Regions from separate parts of the Homo sapiens genome. Here all the other regions are linked to region 3. The links come from fine-mapping of genetic effects on gene expression. A gene starts in region 3. Each other region holds a variant in brackets. All regions are shown on one strand. Distances are between the middles of the regions. Region 1 overlaps SPTBN4 (spectrin beta, non-erythrocytic 4). Region 2 overlaps PLD3 (phospholipase D family member 3). Region 3 holds the start of PLD3 (phospholipase D family member 3).

The links. PIP is the estimated chance that this variant, and not a neighbour inherited with it, causes the effect.
Region 1: its variant is the best candidate, but not a certain one, in a credible set for the expression of PLD3 in whole blood (INTERVAL, PIP 0.89).
Region 2: its variant is the best candidate, but not a certain one, in a credible set for the expression of PLD3 in sigmoid colon (GTEx, PIP 0.77).

The regions. Positions count from the first base shown.
Region 1 is chr19:40,499,526-40,505,795 of GRCh38, forward strand. It overlaps SPTBN4 (spectrin beta, non-erythrocytic 4), which reads left to right. Exons shown (of 36, transcript NM_020971.3): 8 at 2,396-2,508; 9 at 2,603-2,790; 10 at 2,865-2,982; 11 at 3,250-3,408; 12 at 4,305-4,607. Among named protein-coding and RNA genes, the nearest start is that of SPTBN4, 36 kb to the left of the region's middle. The variant G/A (reference allele first, on the strand shown) is at 3,813.
Region 2 is chr19:40,375,719-40,383,674 of GRCh38, forward strand. It overlaps PLD3 (phospholipase D family member 3), which reads left to right. Exons shown (of 13, transcript NM_012268.4): 11 at 891-1,056; 12 at 2,068-2,167; 13 at 2,268-2,767. The coding sequence ends at 2,455. HIPK4 (homeodomain interacting protein kinase 4) reads right to left here. Exons shown (of 4, transcript NM_144685.5): 3 at 4,605-5,450; 4 at 3,553-4,051. The coding sequence ends at 3,869. Among named protein-coding and RNA genes, the nearest start is that of MIR6796, 9.9 kb to the left of the region's middle. The variant A/G (reference allele first, on the strand shown) is at 3,446.
Region 3 is chr19:40,345,151-40,353,106 of GRCh38, forward strand. It overlaps PLD3 (phospholipase D family member 3), which reads left to right and starts at 3,545. Exons shown (of 13, transcript NM_012268.4): 1 at 3,545-3,618. C19orf47 (chromosome 19 open reading frame 47) reads right to left here and starts at 3,247. Exons shown (of 9, transcript NM_001256441.2): 1 at 3,174-3,247. RefSeq lists a silencer at 3,122-3,211 and an enhancer at 3,202-3,491.

The DNA.
Region 1 (6,270 bases), 150 kb after region 3:
GCTATAGGCGTGCACGACCATGCTCAGCTAATTTTTGATTTTTTTTTTTTTGGTAGAGGTGGGGTCTCGCTATGTTGCCCAGGCTGGTCTCAAACTACTGGACTCAAGCGATCCTCCCACCTTGGCCTCCCAGAGTGCCTGGGATTACAGGCCCGAGCCACATGCCTGGCTTAACCTGTCTTCCAAAGTGATGAGAATGACAGCTCAGGGATGTTGTCACTTGCCCAGCATCACACTGAAAATCAGGAAACCAGACCTTATGGCTCCAGAATTCATGGTCTTAATCAGTCCTCTACCCTGCCTCTTATAGCTGTATCCTGTGCTCAGTGCCTGGTACGTAGTAGGTGCTAATGGATGTCAGTTGGACAAGGCAGTGAAGAATAAAGGCCAGGTATACTGTTGTGCATCCAGTGGGTAAATTAAAATGATATCACTCAGTCATGGTGATGGCTTGTGCCTGTAATCCCAGCACTTTGGGAGGTTAAGGCAGGAGGATCGCTTGAGGCCAGAAGTTCAGGACCAGCCTGGGCAATGTAGTGAAATCCCATATCTACAAACCTGTAGTCCCAGCTACACAGGAGGCCAAGGCAGGAGGATCACTTGAGCCCAGGAGTTCGAGGCTGCAGTGAGCTCTGATTACAACACTGCACCCCAGATCCCAACTCAAAAAGCAAAAAACAACAACCAATTAAAGTGATGTTAGAATTTGTTGAGTTTCCCCTCTGTGCCAGGCTAGTCTTTCTAATACTTACATTGTTCCCAGGAGGCAGGAACCATGATAATCTTTATTATAACAATGGGGAAACTGAGGCTTAGAGAAGCTAGGTTATTTTCTAAGGACATGCAGTGAGTAAGTGTTGAACTGGGATCCAAGTGCATGCTGCCTCCAAAGCCTATGTTCTTGACATCAAGCCTTGTGCACAATTTGCAAGCTAACTAAATTTTAATTTAGCACCTACTGTGTGCTGGGTAAGACAGAACAGTGATAAAGAAGATAGGCATACGGCTGGGCCCACGCCTATAGTGGCCCACGCCTATAGTCCCAGCACTATGGGAAGCTGAGGCAGGAGTATTGTTTCAGCCCAAGAGTTCAAGACTAGCCTGGGCAACACAGAGAGACCCTGTCTATGTTTTATAAAAAATAAAAAGTCTATTTAAAAAATTACAAAAAATTAGCCGGGCGTGGTGGTGTGTGCCTGTAATCTCAGCTACTTGGGAGGCTGAGGCATGAGAATTGCTTGAACCTGGGAGGCAGAGGTTGTGGTGGGCCAAGATCACGCCATTGCACTCCAGCCTGGGCAATAGCTTGAGACTGTCTCAAAAAAAAAGAAAGAAAAAGAAAAGAAAGGAAAGGAAAGGAAAGGAAAAGAAAGGAAACAGGCATAGTGTTTGTCCTCATGAAGCTCAAGCTCTAGATAATGACATAATCACATAAGTGAATATGTAATTACAAATTGTGATACATTCTGGGAAGGACATCATAAGATGCTAAGAGGAGAATAACATGAGGATTATCAACTATAGACAGAGTGAACATGGAGGCTTGTCTAAGGAAATTTGAGTTGAGCCAGGCATGGTGGTTCACACCTTTAGTTCTGACTACTCAGGAGGCTGAGGTGGGAGGATTGCTTGAACCTAGGAGCTCGAGGCTGCAGTGAGCTATGATTGCACCACTGCACAATCAGCCTGGACAAGAGAGCCAGACTCCATCTCTTGAAAAAAAAAAAAGTAAAAAGTTGAGCTCTGAAGAATAAGTGGGAATTAGGAACACAGAAGAGGAACAGTGCTCCAGACAGTGAGAACAGCACATGCAAAGGCCCTGAGGTGGAAGGTAGAAAGGTGTGTTCAAGAAACAAATATAGGCCAGGTGCGGTGGCTCACATCTGTAATCCCAGCACTTTGGGAGGCCGAGGTGGGCGGATCACCTGAGGTCAGCAGTTCGAGACCAGCCTGACCAACATGGTGAAGCCCTGTCTCTACTGAAAATATAAAATTAGCCAGGCATGGTGGTGCATGCCCATAACCCCAGCTACTTGGGAGGCTGAGACAGAAGAATCACTTGAACCTGGGAGGTAGAGGTTGCAGTGAGTTGAGATCGTGCCATTGCACTCCAGCCTGGGCAACAAGAGCAAAATTCCATCTTAAAAAAAAAAAGAAAAGAAAAAGAAAAGTATAGCTTATTTCTCTGCGGTGGTTTATATGTGTCAGGCACTATTTAATTCCAGGAGGTAGATTTCTATTTGACGGATACAAAACCTGAGGAACAGAGAGGTTAATTATCTTGCCCAAGGTCACACAGCTAGTGAGAGTGGCTTCTCCATCCCTCCATCCAATACCTTCAAGCACTCTGTCAAAGTGCCCACTGTCTTGTTTCCCCACTCCCTCTTGCTTCCAGATGTGAACATGGAGGCTCCAGATGAGAAGTCCATCATCACCTACGTGGTCTCTTTCTACCACTATTTCTCCAAGATGAAGGCTCTGGCTGTGGAGGGGAAGCGTATCGGGAAGGTATAAGGAGCCAAGGAGTGGGTGAGTGGGAAGCTGGAAGCTGGTGGCAGGCACGGGTGGGATGAGGCTGACCCCCCTTCCTCTGCTGTGTCAGGTCTTGGACCAGGTATTGGAGGTGGGGAAGATCATAGAACGCTACGAGGAGCTGGCGGCTGAGCTGCTGGCCTGGATCCACCGCACCGTGGGCCTCATCAGCAATCAGAAATTTGCCAACTCCTTAAGTGGGGTGCAGCAGCAACTCCAGGCTTTCACGGCCTATTGCACGCTGGAGAAGCCTGTCAAGTGAGGCCCAGCTCTGGAGGGAGGGTGGGCAGGGGTGGCATGACGGCAGGGCTCCTGAGCTCATGCCCCTTCAGGTTCCAGGAGAAGGGGAACCTAGAGGTGCTGCTCTTCAGCATCCAGAGCAAACTGCGTGCCTGCAACCGTCGCCTCTTTGTGCCTCGGGAGGGCTGTGGCATCTGGGATATTGACAAGGTGAGGCCGGGGATGCAGGGGAGAGGCGGGGTTGCACTGTGGAGTTGTATAGGTTGCACACTGCTCAAGGGAATCATTCACATTGTAGACATGATGGATTAGATATTCATTCTGACAGTTTTTCAGTAGTAAAGTGTCATAAGGAAGCAATATTTTTTCCAATTTGCATGAAGTTGCCATAATGCTATGAGTGACCTCAGACTAAGTCAAGACCATTAAACTGTGGGGAGCTGTCAGAGTCTGAGTGCCTCCTCCCATCTCCTGCAGGCATGGGGTGAGCTGGAGAAGGCTGAGCATGAGCGGGAGGCTGCCCTACGGGCTGAGCTGATTCGGCAGGAGAAGCTGGAACTACTGGCACAGAGGTTTGACCACAAGGTGGCTATGAGGGAGAGCTGGCTGAATGAGAACCAGCGTCTGGTCTCCCAGGTACAAGGTGTAGGGCTTGGCTCCAGGGTAAAGGGACGGAGGGCGGGGCTGATGGTCCTGGGACCAGAGAGGGAGACTTGATCTTCTAGGCAACAGGGAAGAGTTAGATTAGTCTCCTGGTGATAAATGAGGATGGGGATGGGAGACTTGGCCTTCCAAGTGATTGTTGGGTGAGGGGAATGGGCCTGATCTCCAGGGTAATGGGAGAGTGAGGCTGGTCTCCAGGGTAACTAGAGAGGGCAGAATTCATCTTTTCAGGAATGGGGGAGTGTTTTAAGTGACAAGGGAGGTTGTATCTTGTGTCTAGGGTAACTCAGAAGGATAGAATTGGTTTCCTAAGTAACAGAGTCAGGTAAACCTGGTCCCTAATCTCCAGGACAGGGGAAGCATGGGCCTCCTTCCTG[G/A]GTAACAAGTTTAAGGTTAGAGATGTAACAGGAGGGTGGGACTTGTTTCCAGGGTAACTGGAGAGAGTGGGGCTGGTCTCTGGGGAAACGGGAAGGTGGGGTTGGTCTCTAGGGCAACAGGGGAGGGTGGGTCTGGTCTCCAGGGTAACTGGGGAAGATTGGGCTGGTCTCCAGGACAACAGGGGAGGGTGGAGCTGGTCTCCAGGATAACTGTGGAAGATGGGCTGGTCTCCAGGGCAACAGGGGATGGGGGGTTGGTCTTTAGGGTAACTGGGGAGGGTGGGGCTGGTCTCCAAGGTAACAATGGAGGGTGGGGCTGGTCTCCAGGTTACCTGGGTAACAGGGGAGGATGAGGCTGGTCTCCAGGATAACTAGGGAGGGCAGGGCCAGTCTCCAAGGTAATGGAGTGGGGAGTCCCCAGGGTCACACAGGGTCAAGGTAACAGGTGGACTGCTGAGGCAGCATGGGTGAGTGTCTGGCTCACTGCCCCAGGACAACTTTGGGTATGAGCTGCCCGCAGTGGAGGCAGCCATGAAGAAACACGAAGCGATCGAGGCAGACATTGCGGCCTACGAGGAGCGGGTGCAGGGTGTGGCGGAGCTGGCCCAGGCATTGGCAGCCGAAGGCTACTACGATATCCGGCGGGTGGCAGCCCAGCGTGACAGCGTCCTGCGCCAGTGGGCCCTGCTAACTGGGCTTGTGGGTGCCCGGCGGACACGACTTGAGCAGAACCTTGCCCTGCAGAAGGTCTTCCAGGAGATGGTGTACATGGTGGACTGGATGGAGGAGATGCAGGTGCCGGCGGGGGGGCGGGGATGCGGGTGGAGTGCCAGGAGGGAGGGGAGGATGCAGACGCTGAAAGAGTTGTCAGACAGCTGGAGATGGAGAGGGAAGGGCAGAGATAGAAGAAGATAGAGAGAAAGCCAGGGAGACAAAAAGAGAGAACAAGAGAGAGAGGGAGAGAAAGATACAGAGATGGACAAGAGAGGCAGACAAAGAAACACAGAATGAGAAAGAGACAGAGACAAATAGAGAGAAATAGAAACATGCTGGACACGGTGGCTCACACCTGTAATACCAGCACTTTGGGAGGCCAAGGAGGGCAGATCACTTGAGGTCAGCAGTTTCAGACCAGCCTGGCCAACATGGTGAAACCCCATCTCTACTAAAAATACAAAACAATTAGCCGGGCGTAGTGGCGGGCGCCTGTAGTCCCAGCTACTTGGGAGGCTGAGGCAGGAGAATGGCGTGAACCCGGGAGGCGGAGCTTGCAGGGAGCCGAGATCCCGCCACTGCACTCCAGCCTGGGCGACAGAGCGAGACTCCGTCTCAAAAAAAAAAACAAAAAAAACAAAAAACAATTAGCTGGGCGTGGTGGCGTGTGCCTGTAGTCCTAGCTATTTGGGAGGCTGAGGCTCAAGAATTGCTTGAATCCAGGAGGCAGAGGCTGCAGTAAGCCAAGGTGGTGCCACTGCACTCCATCCAGCCTGAGTGACAGAGTTTGATTCTGTTTCAAAAAAAAAGAGAGAAATGAAAAAAGACATAGAGATATAGAAACAGAGTAAACCAGGGATGCAGACAGAGAGATAGTGACAGTTTGAGAGAGAGGAAATCAGAGAGACAGAGAGAGGAGAAGGCAGACACAAAGGTGACATGGAAATCTACATGACTACAGAGAAAGATACAGGAAGATGGAATCAATTTAAGAGAGAGAGAGAGAGACCTACCAGATCTAGAGAGAGATGAGACAAGAAAGATAGAAGCCAGCTGGGCATGGTGGCTCTCACCTGCGGTACCAGCACTTTGGGAGGCCGAGGTAGGCAGATTGCTTGAGCCCCAGAGTTTGAGACCAGCCTGATCAACATAGTGAGATCCTGTCTGTACAAAAAAAAAAAAAAAAAAAATTAGCTAGGCGTGGTGGTGTGCGCTTGTAGTCCCAGCTACTCTGAAGTGGGAGGATCGCTTGAGCCCAGGAGGTTGAGGCTGTGTGAGCCATGATTGCACCACTACACTTCAACCTGGATGACAGAGTGAGACCCTGTCTCAAAAAAAAAAAAAAAAAAAAAAGAAGAAGCCGGGCACGGTGGCTCACACCTGTAATCCCAGCACTTTGGGAGGCTGAGGCAGGCAGATCATCTGAGGTCAGGAGTTCAAGACCAGCCTGGCCAACATGGCGAAACCCCATCTCTACTAAAAAATACAAAAATTAGCCGGGCGAAGTACATCTAATCGGGAGGCAGGAGAATCACTTGAACCTGGGAGGTGGAGTTTGCAGTGAGCTGAGATCGCGCCACTGCACTCCAGCCTGGGTGACAGAGGCAGACTCTGTCTCAAAAAAAGAAGAAGAAAAAAGAATGAAAGGGAGGAAGGAAGGAAGGAAGGAAGGAAGGAAGGAAGGAAGGAAGGAAGGAAGGAAGAAAGAAAGGTGAACAGGAGACACAGACAGGAAGGTGAACAG
Region 2 (7,956 bases), 31 kb after region 3:
ATGATGGCACTTGTGGGGCTCAAAGAAGGTATTCTAGGGGCAGTAGATAAGACAGTGGGTCCAGGCATGGTGGCTCACGCCTGTAATCCCAACACTTTGGGAGGCCGAGGCGGAAGGATCCCTAGGAGTTTGAGACCAGCCTGGGCAACATAATGAGACCCCGTCTCTATAGAAAAATTGGAAGATTAGCCCAGTGCGGTGGCACTCACCTGCAGTCCCAGCTACTCAGGAGACTGAGGCAGGAGGATCACTTGAGCCCAGGAGTTGGAGGCTGCATTGAGCTATGGTCGTGCCACTACACTCCAGCCTGGGTGATAGAGCAAGAACCTGTCTCAAAAAGAAAAAAAAGAGGATGGACCGGGCACAGTGGCTCACGCCTGTAATCCCAGCACTTTGGGAGGCCAAGGCGGGCAGATCACCTGAGGTCGGGAGTTCGAGACCAGCCTGACAAACATGGAGAAACCCCGTCTCTACTAAAAATACAAAATTAGCCAGGCGTGGTAGCGCATGCCTGTAATCCTAGCTACCCGGGAGGCTGAGGCAGGAGAATCGCTTGAACCCAGGAGGCAGAGGTTGCAGTGAGCCGAGATTGTGCCATTGCACTCCAGCGTGGGCAACAAGAGCGAAATTCCACCTCAAAAAAAAAAAGAAAGAATAAAAGAGGATGACAACACTGGGTTTTGGGGAGCAGGAATGGGAGCCACAGCCAGGAAGAGGAAATAGGGATGTGGGATTTATGGAGACAGGAACAGGGTCTGGGAGCCAGCGATGAGGAAGTCCTCTCAATAGCTAAAGCAGGGCCCAGGCTTGGTTCCCCAAAGCTGAGGGCAAAGCCTGTGGACACAGCCGCCCTCTGCATCCTGCCCCACCTCCTATACACCCGTCCTCAGGTTCTGGCCTGCCATTGACGATGGGCTGCGGCGGGCCACCTACGAGCGTGGCGTCAAGGTGCGCCTGCTCATCAGCTGCTGGGGACACTCGGAGCCATCCATGCGGGCCTTCCTGCTCTCTCTGGCTGCCCTGCGTGACAACCATACCCACTCTGACATCCAGGTGGTAAGTACTGCCCCAAGCCACCCCTTGGCCCCTGTGTGGGGCAGTCCTAGGGACACAGCCCTCATGGGACTCGTCTGTCAATGACAAGGGCAGCCCAGAGTGAGCCCTGTCACTGTGGGGAAACCATGGGTCAGGGCCAGGGTCATGGGGCACAGGGAGAGGGGCCAGGACCGGGATGAGGGGGCACAGGCAGAGGGGTTGGGACCGGGATGGGGGTGCAGAGAGAGGTGTTGGGACCAGGAATGGGGACATGGGCAGGTAGAGGGGTCAGGGCTGGGATTGGGAGCACAGGCAGAGGGGTCAGGGCTGGGATGGGGAGGCACAGGCAGAAGGGTCGGGGCCGGGTTGGAGGGCACAGAGAGAGGGGTTAGGGCCAGGGTTGGGGGCACAGGCAGAGGGGTCGGGGCCAGGATGGAGGAGGCCCAGGCAGAGGGGTGAGGGCTGGGGTGGGGGGCACAGAGAGAGGGTTTGGGACCAGGACTGGGGGAGTGGGCAGGTAGAGGGGTCGGGGCTGGGGTTGGGGGCACAGGCAGAGGGGTCAGGGCTGGGATGGAGGAGGTACAGGCAGAGGGGTCAGGGCTGGGATGGGGGGGCACAGGCAGAGGGGTCAGGGCTGGGATGGAGGAGGCCCAGGCAGAGGGGTCAGGGCCAGGGTCGGGGGGCACAGGCAGAGGGGTCAGGGCTGGGGTGGGGATGCCCAGAGGAAGCCTCTGCCCTAGCGGGAAGGGCCAAGGAAGATGTTCTGGAAATGGGGGCATCTGAGATGAGACCTCAGGAATGAACAGGAGCCATTCTGCCGGGAACAGTGTTTTGCAAATGAGACCACCGGGGCCTCCCTTTCAGCTTTCGTTCTCAGAGGGCCCCTCCACCTGGCCCTGTTCTGGCCCCCGAGGATTCTGTGGGAAGCAGTGGAGTCCCACAGATCTCGCTCCACACTCTGCTCCCTGATCCCGGGGCTCCTCCGACTCCCCCTGCCTCTCACACTCCTTCCCATCCTCCCCTCCCACTCAGAAACTCTTTGTGGTCCCCGCGGATGAGGCCCAGGCTCGAATCCCATATGCCCGTGTCAACCACAACAAGTACATGGTGACTGAACGCGCCACCTACATCGGTGAGTGTCTTGAGCACCACGGGGCGCTGAAGAAGAGGGGGTTCAGACACCAGGGGCGGCCCCCCGAGGGTGCCCTTATGCTCCACCCATTCCTCTCTAGGAACCTCCAACTGGTCTGGCAACTACTTCACGGAGACGGCGGGCACCTCGCTGCTGGTGACGCAGAATGGGAGGGGCGGCCTGCGGAGCCAGCTGGAGGCCATTTTCCTGAGGGACTGGGACTCCCCTTACAGCCATGACCTTGACACCTCAGCTGACAGCGTGGGCAACGCCTGCCGCCTGCTCTGAGGCCCGATCCAGTGGGCAGGCCAAGGCCTGCTGGGCCCCCGCGGACCCAGGTGCTCTGGGTCACGGTCCCTGTCCCCGCGCCCCCGCTTCTGTCTGCCCCATTGTGGCTCCTCAGGCTCTCTCCCCTGCTCTCCCACCTCTACCTCCACCCCCACCGGCCTGACGCTGTGGCCCCGGGACCCAGCAGAGCTGGGGGAGGGATCAGCCCCCAAAGAAATGGGGGTGCATGCTGGGCCTGGCCCCCTGGCCCACCCCCACTTTCCAGGGCAAAAAGGGCCCAGGGTTATAATAAGTAAATAACTTGTCTGTACAGCCTGTGCCTGACTGAGTGGTGTGAGATGGGGTGCAGGGGTAGGGGACAGCTGGCATGGGCCTCTGGTGGGGACATCTTTTTGTGCTGAGCCCTCAACATGTCACTGGCATGTGCTGAGCCCTCAGTGTGTGACCAGTGTGGGTTAGCATGTACTGAGCCCTCAGCATGTGCTGGCATGGGTTGGCATGTGCTGAGCCCTTAACATGTAGTGTACATGGGCTGACCTGTGCTGAGCATGCAGCGTGCCACCCTGTGGCCCGGCATGGACTTAGCACTCATGTAGCCAGCATGGGTATGTGCTGCAGAGAAGCATGTTCCCAGATTGATCAGCAGGGACCAAACCATTGCCACATCCCAAGGGTGAACAAGCATGGCTGAGCACCAGAGTGTGCACCAAGTGTGAATTTAGGCCTGCCAAGTGGATTTACACCCAGCACGTCCCAAATGTGGGTGAGTGCATGCCAACCCTGTAAACATGTAGGAAGGACAGGTCAACAGACAAGGAGACCCCAGCATCCGGCAAACTTGATTAACACATACTGAACACAGCATGTTCTGAGGGTGGATTCCCAACACGCCAAGCACATAGCGTATTTAGGACAAGGGTTAGTCAACCAAGCACAGCTTTTCCCTCCTAGTGTGACAGCAGCCCAGGCTCCCGCCTAAGCCAGTGGTCA[A/G]CTGGGCCCAGCATCGCAGAGCAAGTCACTGGGTGCCAGCCTGGAGCCCCCATTCCCCCCAGGGCCAGTCCAAGCCCCAGGCAGTGAGAGCAGGCTTGAAGCAGGACTGCTGAACAGTTCTATATTGAAATAGACAGAGGCAGCAGGGCCAAGGGCGAGCGCAGGGCCAGCGGGGTGCAGCCCCCTTTCCTGCTGTCCTTCTGGCCAAGGAGCATGGGCCAGACTCCAAAGCCCTGCTGTGTTTAGGAGAGGTGTGCAGGCACGCACCGCACCGCAGACGGGGAATGAGAATTTCTGGATAACTATCTTTCTGTAAGAATAATTTGTGGGTTCAGGAGATGGCTCTGAGGAGCAGTTCAGGTTGGGAGGGAATGCCAGCCCAGCTAGCGCAGCCCCCAGTGATGGGCAGGGGTGGAATCACCATCAGTGGTGCCCGGTGACATGCTGGAGGAAGCTGGTGGCCCCCCGGGGTGGACCATGCTGGTGGGAGCGGCGGGGTGGGAGCCCCTGAGCCCGTGGGCCCCTGACGCTCTCCAGGGTGCAGTCTGGCTCACTCAGCCATTCTCCAGGACAGCTGCTGGGGTCGAAGAGCTCAGGGTCTGGCCTCTGTGGGGGAAGAGAGAGGGGCATCAGCCAAGCAGTGTTAGTGTATTAGTGTCTGCTGAGCCTCTGTCACCTCCTCCTGATGAGGGTGAGCATGTGCTAGGGTCTTACCAGTGCTGGGCCTTTATTGCCCCTTTGTAGTGATGTGATGACAGCTCACTGCAGCCTCGACCTCCCTGGCTCAAGTGATCCTCCCACCTCAGCCTCCTGAGTAGCTGGGACTACAGGTGCATGCCACCAAAACCAGCTAATATTTCTAATTTTTTGGTGCAGACGGGATCTCACTATGTTGCCCAGGCTCTTTATCAAGCTTCTTATAAGTAGATTACTGTGCCCTGAGTTTTTGTCACAGCCTGGAAGTAGCTGAGTAAGTGCTGAGCCTTATCATATCTTGACGGTATTAGGTGTGTGCTGAGCCTCCTAAGTCCCTAATTGTATCCTGAACATGGGTGAGTGTGTGTTGAGCCTCCTCACACACTAATCATATCCTGAGCACGGGTGAGTGTGTGCTGAGCCTCCTCCCACCCTAATCGTATCCTGAACGCACCCGGCTCACCTCAGCTTCCATGGTCATGTTGTCAATGTTGGGCCCATCCTCATCTCGCTGCAGGATGGCCAGTGGCTCAGCAGAGGCCCCGAGATGCTCTCCTTCCTCCCAGCTGCTGCCCCGGCAGGGCCTGTCATCCTCAGGCGAGACCTGGCTCAGCCGAATGAGGTTGCTGAAGTTGGAGTCGGACTTGGAACCCGCAGGTGGCTTGCGGGCCTTGTGGCGGCCTGCCAGGCGGCTGCTGTAGAAGGCCAGGATGGGCTCAGGGCCCGAGTCGGGCACATGGTGGCCAGTGATGGCTGCCTTGAGGGGGACCATCATGTCGGAGACCGCATTGGTGCAGGTCTCACCCCACAGCCCATGCCCAGCCTCCTGCAGACTCAGGTCATCCAGCTGGTCGATGGCTCTTTGCATACCTGGTGCCTTCTCCTCTCGGAAGAAGGGGCTGCTGCCGGCCACACTGCCCATACCCGCAGCCTCCTTCTCCTCAGCCAGACAGTAGTAGGGGGTCCCATCTTCTGCGGCCACGACGGGCGTGGGGGGCTTCCCCTCCACTTGCAGCGAGAGGCGGTAGCTGCGCAGCGAGAGCTGGTAGTAGTGGGTGGTCTCGTGGGCACTGCGCAGCTGCTGCATGGACACGAAGGGGTGGCGCAGGGCAGCACTGGGGCTGATGCGTTCGTGTGACTCCCAGGTCAGCATGCGCTTGATCAGCTCCACCATGCTCTTGAGGTCGGCGTGCTCCGCCAGCGCCTCCCGGTCAGGGAAGGTTAGCCGACTGGCCACACTGCCACCATTCACTGTCTCAATCTGGTCCAACGACTTGAGCATATACTTGCGGCGCTCCAATGGGCGCACCTGGCGGGGCATGGAGAAGGGGGCAGGGTTGACCATTGTGCAGGGCTAGGGCCCTGGGCACTCCTGCTGTGGCACCCACATGTAGCCCCGACTTCCAGGTCTGCCCATGATCTGCCTTGGAGCTCTCTGGCTGCTAGGAGGGCCACCCTGGATCCGTCACACCCAAGCCCCTCTAATCGAACCCAAATCACTGGCCCAAGTTCCACCCCTTGCCCCAGACCTCCAGTCCCCTTCAGCACCATGGGTGCAGCCCCTACCAGCAGCTAGCAGAAGGGCTGCCCGGAATCTCTAGTCCTCCCTGGAATCAAATCCAGGTCCCTCTTACTGCCACAGCTCCACACTTGATCCCAGGCCTCCTGGTGGTCAAACCCAGACCCTTCTTGCTATAGTAGTTTGTCACCCCCTGCTATTAAACTGCCATTGACTTTTAGTCTCACCTGTGGTCCCATCCAGACCCTTCTTGCTGTGAAATCAAGACCTATGACCTCAAACTCCTAGTCCCCTCTGCTGTCTAACCCAGGCTCTTGCTGCACAGATGGGAGGGGCAAAGCCACAGAGGTAGCAGACTGGCTGCTGCCCCAAACCTCTAGACTCACCTGAGGTCTCACTCAGATCCTTTTTTTTTTTTTTTTTTTTTTTTTTTTGTATGTGTGTGAGACAGAGTTTCACTCTTGTTGCCCAGGCTGGAGTGCAGTGGTACAATCTCGGCTCACTGCAACCTCCACCTCCCAGGTTCAAGCGATTCTCCTGCCTCAGCCTCCTGAGCAGCTGGAATTACAGGTGTCCACCACCATGCCCAGCTAATTTTTGTATTTTTAGTAGAGATGGGGTTTCACCATGTTGGCCAGGCTGTTCTCGAACTCCTGACCTCAGGTGATCCACCCACCTCGGCCTCCCAAAGTGCTGGGATTACAGGTGTGAGCCACTGTGCCTGGCCTTAGATCCTTTTTTTTAAACAGGGTCTTGCTGTGTCGCCCAGACTGGGGTGTAGTGGTGCAATCATAGCTCACTGCAACTGCCAACTCCTGGGTTCAAGTGATCTTCCCACCTCAGCCTCCCAAGTAGCTTGGAACTACCGGTGTGTGCCACCATGCCTGGCTAAATTTTAAAAAAAATTTTTTCTAGAGACACGGTCTTGCTATGTCGCCCACAATGACTTCAAGTGATCCTCCTGCCTTGGCCCCCACCAAAGTGCGTGGACTACAGGCATAAGCCACTGCACCTGGCCTCTCTCGCAATTCTCATAGCCAATCTCAGACCTCATATATTCTCTGTGGTCTAATCCCTCTTGCCACACAAGTTGCTGACCCCGGAGCTGAAGCTGGCAGAGAAGCTGCCCCAATCGTCCTGTCACACTTATAGTATGACCCAGATCTCTCTTGCTAGAGCAGCCCCCACATCTGACTTCCAAACATCTAATTCTCCCTGCAGTTTCTCCCCCAGATCTATCTTGCTGCAGTTGCTGACCAGTCCCACATTTGATCTCATGCAGCTCTTTCTTGCTGTGAAAATGCCCTAGGCTGACCCCCAAGTTCCAGTCCTCATTGAGGTTTAGCCCAGAAATTTTTTTTTTCAATTATTAAAAAAATATTTTTTTGGCCGAGCGCGGTGGCTCATGCCTGTAATCTCACTGCTTTGGGAGGTCGAGGTGGGTGGATCACGAGGTCGGGTGTCTGAGACCAGCCTGGCCAACATGGTAAAACCCCGTCTCTAGTAAAAATACAAAAAAATTGCCGGGTGTGATGGTGGGTGCCTGTAAGCCCAGCTACTCAGGAGGCTGAGGCAGGAGAATCTCTTGAACCTGGGAGGCAGAGGTTGCAGTGAGCTGAGACCGCACCACTGCACTCCAGCCTGAGCAACAGATCAAGACTCCGTCTTAAAAAAAAAAGAAAAAAATATTTTTCTTTTCTTTCTTTTTTTTTTTTTTTTTTTGAGACGGAGTCTCACTCTGTTGCCCAGGCTGGAGTGCAGTGGTGGGATCTCGGCTCACTGCAACCTCCGCCCTCTGGGTTCAAGCGATTCTCCTGCCTCAGCCCGCCGAGTAGCTGGAATTACAGGCGTCTGCCACTGCGCCCAGCTAATTTTTTGTGTTTTTAGTAGAGACTGGGTTTCATCATCTTGGCCAGGCTGGTCTTGAACTCCTGACCTCGTGATCCACCCACCTCGGACTCCCAAAGTGCTGGGATTACAGGCGTAAGCCACCACACCCAGCCTCTGTTTTTTGTTCTTTTCACTCCATTCTTCTGGTCTGATAGATTTTTCTTTTTGAAACAGAGTCTTGCTCTGTCACCCAGGCTCAAGTGTAGTGGCATGATCATAGTTCACTGTAGCCTGGACCTCCCAGGCTCAAGGAATTCTCCTGCCTCAGCCTCCCATGTATCTGGGACAATAGGCCCATACCACCGTGCCCAGCTGATTTTTTTTTCCATGTTTTATAAAGAGGAGGTCTCACTATGTTCCCCAGGCTGGTCTCAAACCCCTAGGCTCAAGGGATCCTCCCACCACA
Region 3 (7,956 bases):
AGACCCTACTGAATTCAATTTCCTCTCTCCACAATCTTAAAAGCCCATCTCCAGCACTGACTTTCCGAATAGTGAAAATTATAATAGTGATTTTAAAGACAGCAGCTCCCAAAACTCAAGGGATTACCACATACCAGACTCCATGTGCTAAGCCCTTAGAAGACCTGTATCCAAATCCCAATTTTACCACGTCCTAATCCTGACTCTGGACAAGTAGCTTAACCTTTCTGACCTCACTTCCCTCAACTGCACAATAAGAATGGTAAGGCCGGGTACAGTAACTCACACCTGTAGTCCCAGCACTTTGGGAGGCCGAAGCAGGAGGATCTCTGGAGCCCAGGATTTTGAGGCCAGCCTGGGCAATATAGCGAGACCCTGTCACTGTTAAAAAAAAAAAAAAAAAAAAAAAAACTGGGCGTGGTGGCTCACGCCTGTAATCACAGCACTTTGGGAGGCTGAGGCGGGTGGATCACCTGAGGTCAGGAGTTCGAGACCAGCCTGGCCAATATGGTGAAACCCCATCTCTACTAAAAATACAAAAATTAGCCAGGCATGGTGGTGTATGCCTGTAATCCAAGCTACTCAGTAGGCTAAGGTGGGAGAATCGCTTCAACCCGGGGCGGGGGGGGGAGAGGTTGCAGTGAGCCAAGATTACGCCACTTCACTCCAGCCTGGGCAACAGAGCAAGACTCAGTCTCAAAAAAAAAAAAAAAAAAAGGAAAGGTGGCTGGGCGCAGTGGCTCATGCCTGTAATCCCAACGCTTTGGGAGGCCAAGGCAGTGGATCACAAGGTCAGGAGTTTGAGACCAGCCTGGCCAACATGGCGAAACTCCGCCTCTACTAAAAATACAAAAAATTAGCTGGGCATGGTGGCAGGCACCTGTAATCCCAGCTACTCGGGAGGCTGAGGCAGGAGAATCACTTGAACCCAGGAGGCAGAGGTTGCAGTGAGCCGAAACTGTACCACTACACTCCAGCCTGGGCAACAGAGTGAGACTCCATCTCAAAAAAAAAAAAAAAAGTAAGATTACCAATTCTTGGCCAGCACCTTGGGAGGCTGAGGCAGGTGGATAACCTGAGGTCAGGAATTCAAGACCAGCCTGGCCAACATAGTGAAACCCCTCTCTACTAAAAATACAAAAATTAGCCAGGCGTGGTGGTGGGCACCTGTAATCCTAGCTACTCAGGAGGCTGAGGCAGGAGAATTGCTTAAGCCCGGGAGGCAGAGGTTGCAGTGATCCAAGATCGCACCACTGCACTCCAGCCTGGGCAACAGAGCGAGACCTTGTCTCAAATAAATAAATAAATAAATAAATAAATAAATAAATAAATAAATAATAAAAATAAAAAAACACCATCTTAAAAAAAAAAAAAGAGGACCCTTTTTTTTTTTTGAGATGAAGTCCCACTCTGTCGCCCAGGCTGGAGTGCAGTGGCGTGATCTCGTCTCACTGCAACCTCTGCCTCCCAGGTTCAAGCAATTATCCTGCCTCAGCCTCCCAAGTAGCTGGGATTACAGGCCCCCACCACCATGCCCGGCTAATTTTCTGTAGTTTTAGTAGAGACGGGGTTTCACCGTGTTAGCCAGGATGGTCTCTATCTCCTGACCTCGTGATCCGCCCGTCTCGGCCTCCCAAAGTGCTAGGATTACAGGCGTGAGCCACCACGCCCAGCCAAGGACCCATTCTTAAAGGTGTTACAAGGATTAAACGAGTTAATAAACAGAGTCCTTAGAACAAAGATGCACGGCAGGTGGTTAAGTGCGATGTTAAGTGTGCATCAAATAAAACAAATCTTCAGTAAGCTAGGGAAACAGTGGGACAGTCACTGACTTAATGCTAGTTTTATACAAAGTGTGAGCTGGGAACAAGTATAAGGACAACTTAATGGGGGTCCATGGGATCTGACAACAGGGAATCACACAGTACAGGTTCTGAACAGTATCCCTATTCAAAGGGAATACGTAGTATTCCTTTTCAATTATCTTTCCATTTCAGTGTACAATGTAATGGGCTGTTCAGTTTCCATTGTATTTTACCTGAACTTTTCCTTCCTCTCATGGCCAGCAATGCTAGTTTTCCATTGAAGACAGCAATGCGCCGGGCACGGTGGCTCACACCTGTAATCCCAGCACTTTGGGAGGCAGAGGCGGGCAGATCACCTGAAGTCAGAAGTTCGAGACCAGCCTGACCAACATGCAGAAACCCCGTCTCTACTAAAATACAAAAAAAATTAGCCGGGCGTGGTGGCGCATGCCTGTAATCCCAGCTACTCGGAAGGTTGAGGCAGGAGAATCCCTTGAACCCAGGAAGCGGAGGTTGCGGTGAGACGAAATTGCACCATTGCACTCCAGCCTGGGCAACAAGAGCGAAACTCCGTCTCAAAGAAAAAAAAAAGAAGAAGACAGCAATGCAAATTTGCCTTCTCAAATTAACTTACTGGGGAAAAAAATGCACTAGTCATTATCAAGAAAAAGAAAAAAACTAGTACTTCAGGACTCAGCAAAATTGGTCAAATAGTAAGTGACAGGATGTCGATTTCCCCGGCTCCAATTCTAAGTTTTTCCTATTGCTGTCTCTGAGCTTTCTCCCCCAGCTTCCCTGGAATTCCCAGCTACACCAATGACTCTCAGAATCATTATCATTATAGTCCCAATCCACGAGCTCTCACTGTGCCAGCCCCTCTGCTTAAAATCTTTACACACACAGATTTCATCAGAATCCTCAAGACGACCCTATGATATTGGGACTATCTGCTCTCATTGTACAGATGAGAAAAAACGGGGTTCAAGGAAGCGAAGACACAGGCCCCACTGCCGCACAGTGGAGCGGGACTTGAACCAAAATTCGACGGCTTCCAAACCCAACAATTTTTCATACTAAGCGCTCAAACATCAATACTAATAATAATAGTATAGTAACGAAGTGAGCGTTATGCGGAGGCGCTGAGCTAAGGCATCCAACGTACACGACCTGACTTCTCACTCCCATTTATAAAGCCGGTGATACAGTCGGATTCTAACCCCCATTCCACAGGGGAGGAAACTGAGGCTCAAAGAAACAAATCGTAAGTCCGAAGCCGTACAACGGAGCCCGAACTGAGTCCAGACACCCGGACGCCACCCGTCCCTACCGCAACCGGCCCAGTCCCACCACCCCCGGCCCGCGCCTCACCTGGCCCACCGGGCCCGCGCCCACTCGCGCCGCCCGCCCTCCCTCCCGGCGGCGCCAACTGTCAGACACTCCTCCCCCGGCCCGGGCTGCCCGCCCCGGAAGCATCCTCTCACCGCCGGAAGCTGAACTGACTCGTCCGCGGCCGCTCTACCCCAACAGGCCGCCACCAGCGAGAGTGCGGCCATAACCATCACGTGACCGCCCACCGACACCAGCGAGAGTGCAGTCGTAACCGTCACGTGACCGCCCACCGTCGGCCCGGCGCTCCCCTCCGCCCGAAGCTAGCAAGCGGCGCGGCCAATGAGAAAGGCGCATGCCTGGCCCCCGCCGGCCTGCAGTCTAGCCGTAGTGCGCCTGCGCGCGGCTAGGAGGGGCCGTCAGGCGGGGATACAGCCTGGAAGGTGCGTGTGGGGCTGGGTCTCGGAGTGGGAGACGTGGAGTGCAGGTACTGTGCGATCTGGGGGCGCGGCGCCTCGGCTACCCTCCTCGTGTTGTCTTCCACGCTATAATGCATGGAATATAATATATATTATATGGAATATAATATATGGAATATAATATATATAATTATAGCGTTGTCTTCCACGCTATAATTTATGTCGTCCTCGGTCTCTTTATGTCACCATTCCTCTCCTTCTGTCTCATCCCACTTAAATCCTCACAACTCCTTCTGTCGCCATCACCCTCTTTAAATCCTCACAACTCCTCTTGTTGTCATCAACGCCCTTAACTCGCTTTCGTTCCCTGTAAGCCCTCTTTGCCACCATAGGTCGTAATCGCTCCCTTTAAATTCGTCATCGCCATATGTTACCTGCATCCTGCTTTTGTTGCCATTTCTCCTTTATAAAATCCTCATTTCTCTTTAAACCCTCATCATACCCCCAAGTCACCTTCGCATGGCTACTGTCCCCATCGCTCTTCTTAAATCGCGCTAATGCAACTCTTACGTCATCATTACCCCTTGTGTCTTTGTCCCTCCCTTGGCATCACTGTTCCTCTGACCAGTCACCATCCACTCCTCATGCTTCCAGTTTTCCCCATAAGGAGCCACCCAGCCTTACAGTTATTTTTCTTCCCTCCGTGTCTTCGTCATTTCCCCGTGTCACATCTCACATAACATACGGGGTACTGCAGCCCATTACCTGGGGTGTGTCAGAATCCCAGCCCCACCACTACACCTCTGGATACCTTGACTGCCTTATGGCACCTTTCCAATCCCAGCTTCATCTGCAAAATGCACACGGGGACATCCACATCAGGGCTGAGTGTGACGATTCTGTGAGTTTATTCTTGTGGTAGGCTCAGCTTGACATGGTGTTTTTGGCTAATATTGTTATTAACCATGTCACCCTCGGCCGGGTGCGGTGGCTCATGCCTGTAATCCCAGCACTTTAGGAGGCCAAGGTGGGCGGATCACCTGATGTCGGGAGTTCGAGACCAGCCTGATCAACATGGAGAAACCCCGTCTCTACTAAAAATACAAAATTAGCCGGGCGTGGTGGTGCATGCCTATAATCCCAGCTACTCGGGAGGCTGAGGCAGGAGAATGGCTTGAACCGGGGAGGTGGAGGTTGCAGTGAGCCGAGATCGCGCCATTGCACTCCAGCCTGGGCAACAAGAGCGAGACTCCGTCTCAAAAAAAAATAATAATAATAGGCCAGGCGCGGTGGCTCACGCCTGTAATCCCAGCACTTTGGGAGGCCGAGGCGGGCGGATCACCTCAGGTCGGAAGTTCGAGACCAGCCTGACCAACATGGAGAAACCCCATCTCTATTAAAAATACAAAATTAGCCAGGCATGGTGGCACATGCCTGTAATCCCAGCTACTCGGGAGGCTGAGACAGGAGAATCGTTCGAATCTGAGAGGCGGAGGTTGCAGTGAGCCTAGATCGTGCCATTGCACTGTAGCCTGGGCAACAAGAGCGAGACTCCGTCTCAAAAAAAAAAAAAAAAAAAAAAACTGCATGATCTTGGGCAACTAACTTAACCTCCCAGCGCCTCAGTTACTGCATCTGCAATATGGGAATGAAAACACAAATTAATCATTCTGCACATAATTCTTAAGCATGTACTATATATGTGCCCAACACTGCTAGACACTGGGGATACCTCAATGAACAATACAGACAAAAATATCTCGGCCTGGCGCAATGGCTCACACCTGTAATCCAAGCACTTTGGGAGGTGAAGTGGGTGGATCACCTGAGACCAGGAGTTTGAGACCAGCCTGGACAACATGGTGAAGCCCCATCTCTACTAAAAATGCAAAAATTAGCCAGGCATGGTGGCGCGCCCCTAAAATCTGAGCAACTCGGGAGGCTGAGGTGAGAGGATTGCTTGAACCCAGGAGGCGGAGGCTGCAGTGAGTTGAGATCGCACCACTGCACTCCAGCCTGGGTGACAGAGTGAGACCCCATCTCAAAAAAAAAAAAAAAATCTGGCCTTATGGACTGTGTACTACACTCTAGTGGGGGTAAGAGGCAATGGGTAAATAGGTAAGTAGATTATTGGATGTATTAGAAGGGGCATGGGGAATGTGGGGTCAAGGTTATAGTTTTAAATAGGGTGGTCAGGGAAAGCTTTCTGAGAAGGTGACATTTGAAACAAATACTTGAAGGAGAAGAGAGAGTAGGGCTGGGCACGGTGGCTCACGCCTGTGATCACAGCACTTTGGGAGGCTGAGGAAGGTGGATCGCTGGAGCTCAGGAGTTTGAGATCAGCCTGGGCAACATAGCGAAACCCCATCTCTACAAAAATTAGCCAGGTATGGTGGTGTGCGCCTGTGGTCCCAGCTACTTGGGAGGCTGAGAGGTGGGGGGATCGCTTGAGCCTGGGAGTTCGAGGCTGCAGTGAGCCATGATTTTGCCAATACACTCCAGCCTGGGCAACAGACGGAGACCCTGTCTCAAAACAAAAAAACAAAACAAAACAAAAAAACGGCCAGGCGTAGTGGCTCATGCCTATAATCCCAGCACTTTGGGAGGCCAAGGCTGGCAGATCACCTGAGGTCAGGAGTTCGAGACCAGCCTGACTAACATGGTGAAACCTCGTCTCTACTAAAATTACAAAAAATTAGGCAGGCATAGTGGCAGACACCTGTAATCCCAGCTATTCAGGAGGCTGAGGCAGGAGAATCGCTTGAACCAGGGAGGCGGAGGTTGCAGTGAACTGAGATTGCGCCATTGCACTCCAGCCTGGGCGACAGCGAGATTCTGTCTCAAAAAAAGAGAGAGAGAAAGAAAGAGTGACATGGCCCTCTGGGGGAACAGCATGCTGGGCAAAGAGAACAGCAAAAGCAAAAGTCTTGCGGTAGGAGCAAGCTTGGAATATTTAAGGAATAGCAAGGAGGTCAGTGAGAGAGGAGAGGGGCAAGAGACGACATTGGAGGGGTGATGGGGCACATCGTGGAAGGCCTTGTGAGCCATGCAGAAGGCTGGCTTTTACTCCCAGTGAGGTGGGTGCCACAGGAGGATGTGGAGCCGAGGAGGGATGCGGTCCAGTGTGACATGAAGCCATCACCCTGAGCTGTGGCAGCTCCAGAACTTCTACCCAGGATCGACTAGTGAGAGGCAGCCTTATTGGAAAGAGAGCCAGAATCTTCTTCAGTCCGCACTCACATATCCTTTATGTTGGGAGAAAGTTTCAAATATCCCTGTCAAAGATCGAGACCGGGCGTGGTGGTTCACGCCTATAATCCCAGCACTTTGGGAGGCTGAGGCGGGCGGATCACTTGAGGTCAGGAGTTCGAAACCACCCTGACCAACATGGTGAAACCTCATCTCTACCAAAATTATATAAAATTAGCTGGGCGTTGTGGCTTGTGCCTGTAATCCCAGCTACTCAGGAGGCTGAGGCAGGAAAATCGCTTGAACCCGGGAGGCAGAGGTTGCAGTGAGCCGAGATCACACCACTTCACTCCAGCCTGGGCAACAGAGCAAGACTCCATCTCAGATAAATAAATAAATAGTCATAAAATTTGAGGGCAGGCTAGGGAAATGCTAACGGAATTTTTGAGAGGCCGGCGCCACCACGGGGTTCAGCTGCTGTCCCAGACGGTGGGGGGCAGGCAGCAGGGGATCTACAGATGATGAACAACAGGAGAGGCAGCTGTCATGTGGCATCTGTCCCTGGAAGCTTGAGGCAGCTTGGGTTCAAATCCTTGCTCCATTTCCTCTCTCTTTTTTTTTAACCAAAGTCCAGTTCCAGGCTTACCACATATCCTATTTCTCTTTATACCTGTGACTTCACCTCTCTGGATCCTTAATTCCCTAAGTGGGATTTTTAAGAGGACTGTTGTGAAAATTAAATATATTAAGTCCAATTTAAAAAAATAAAACAAATATATTAAGTGCTTTGAGGCCAGGCACAGTGGCTTATGCCTGTAATCCCAGCACTTTGAGAGGTTGAGGTAGGCAGATCACTTGAGCCCAGCAGTTCAATAGCAGCCTGGGCAATGTGGTGAGATCCCAACTCTACAAAAAAATAAAAAACTAGCTGGGCATGGTGGCACACACCTGTGGTTCCAGCTACTCAGGAGGCTGAGGCGAGAGGATCACTTGAGCCCAGGAGTTCCAGGCTGCAGTGAGATGTGTTCCCACCACTGCATTCCAGCCTGGGCAACAAAGCGAGGAGACCCTGTCTCAAAAAAAATCAAAAATGAATGCAAGAAGCCCCATTGTCTCACTCCACACCCTGCACTTTTGCAGGCTCACGCCTCCCTCAAGCTGCAGGGTCCCTCGCCTGATGTGATGAAGGGAGATTTTGCATTGTTTTGTTCATGAAT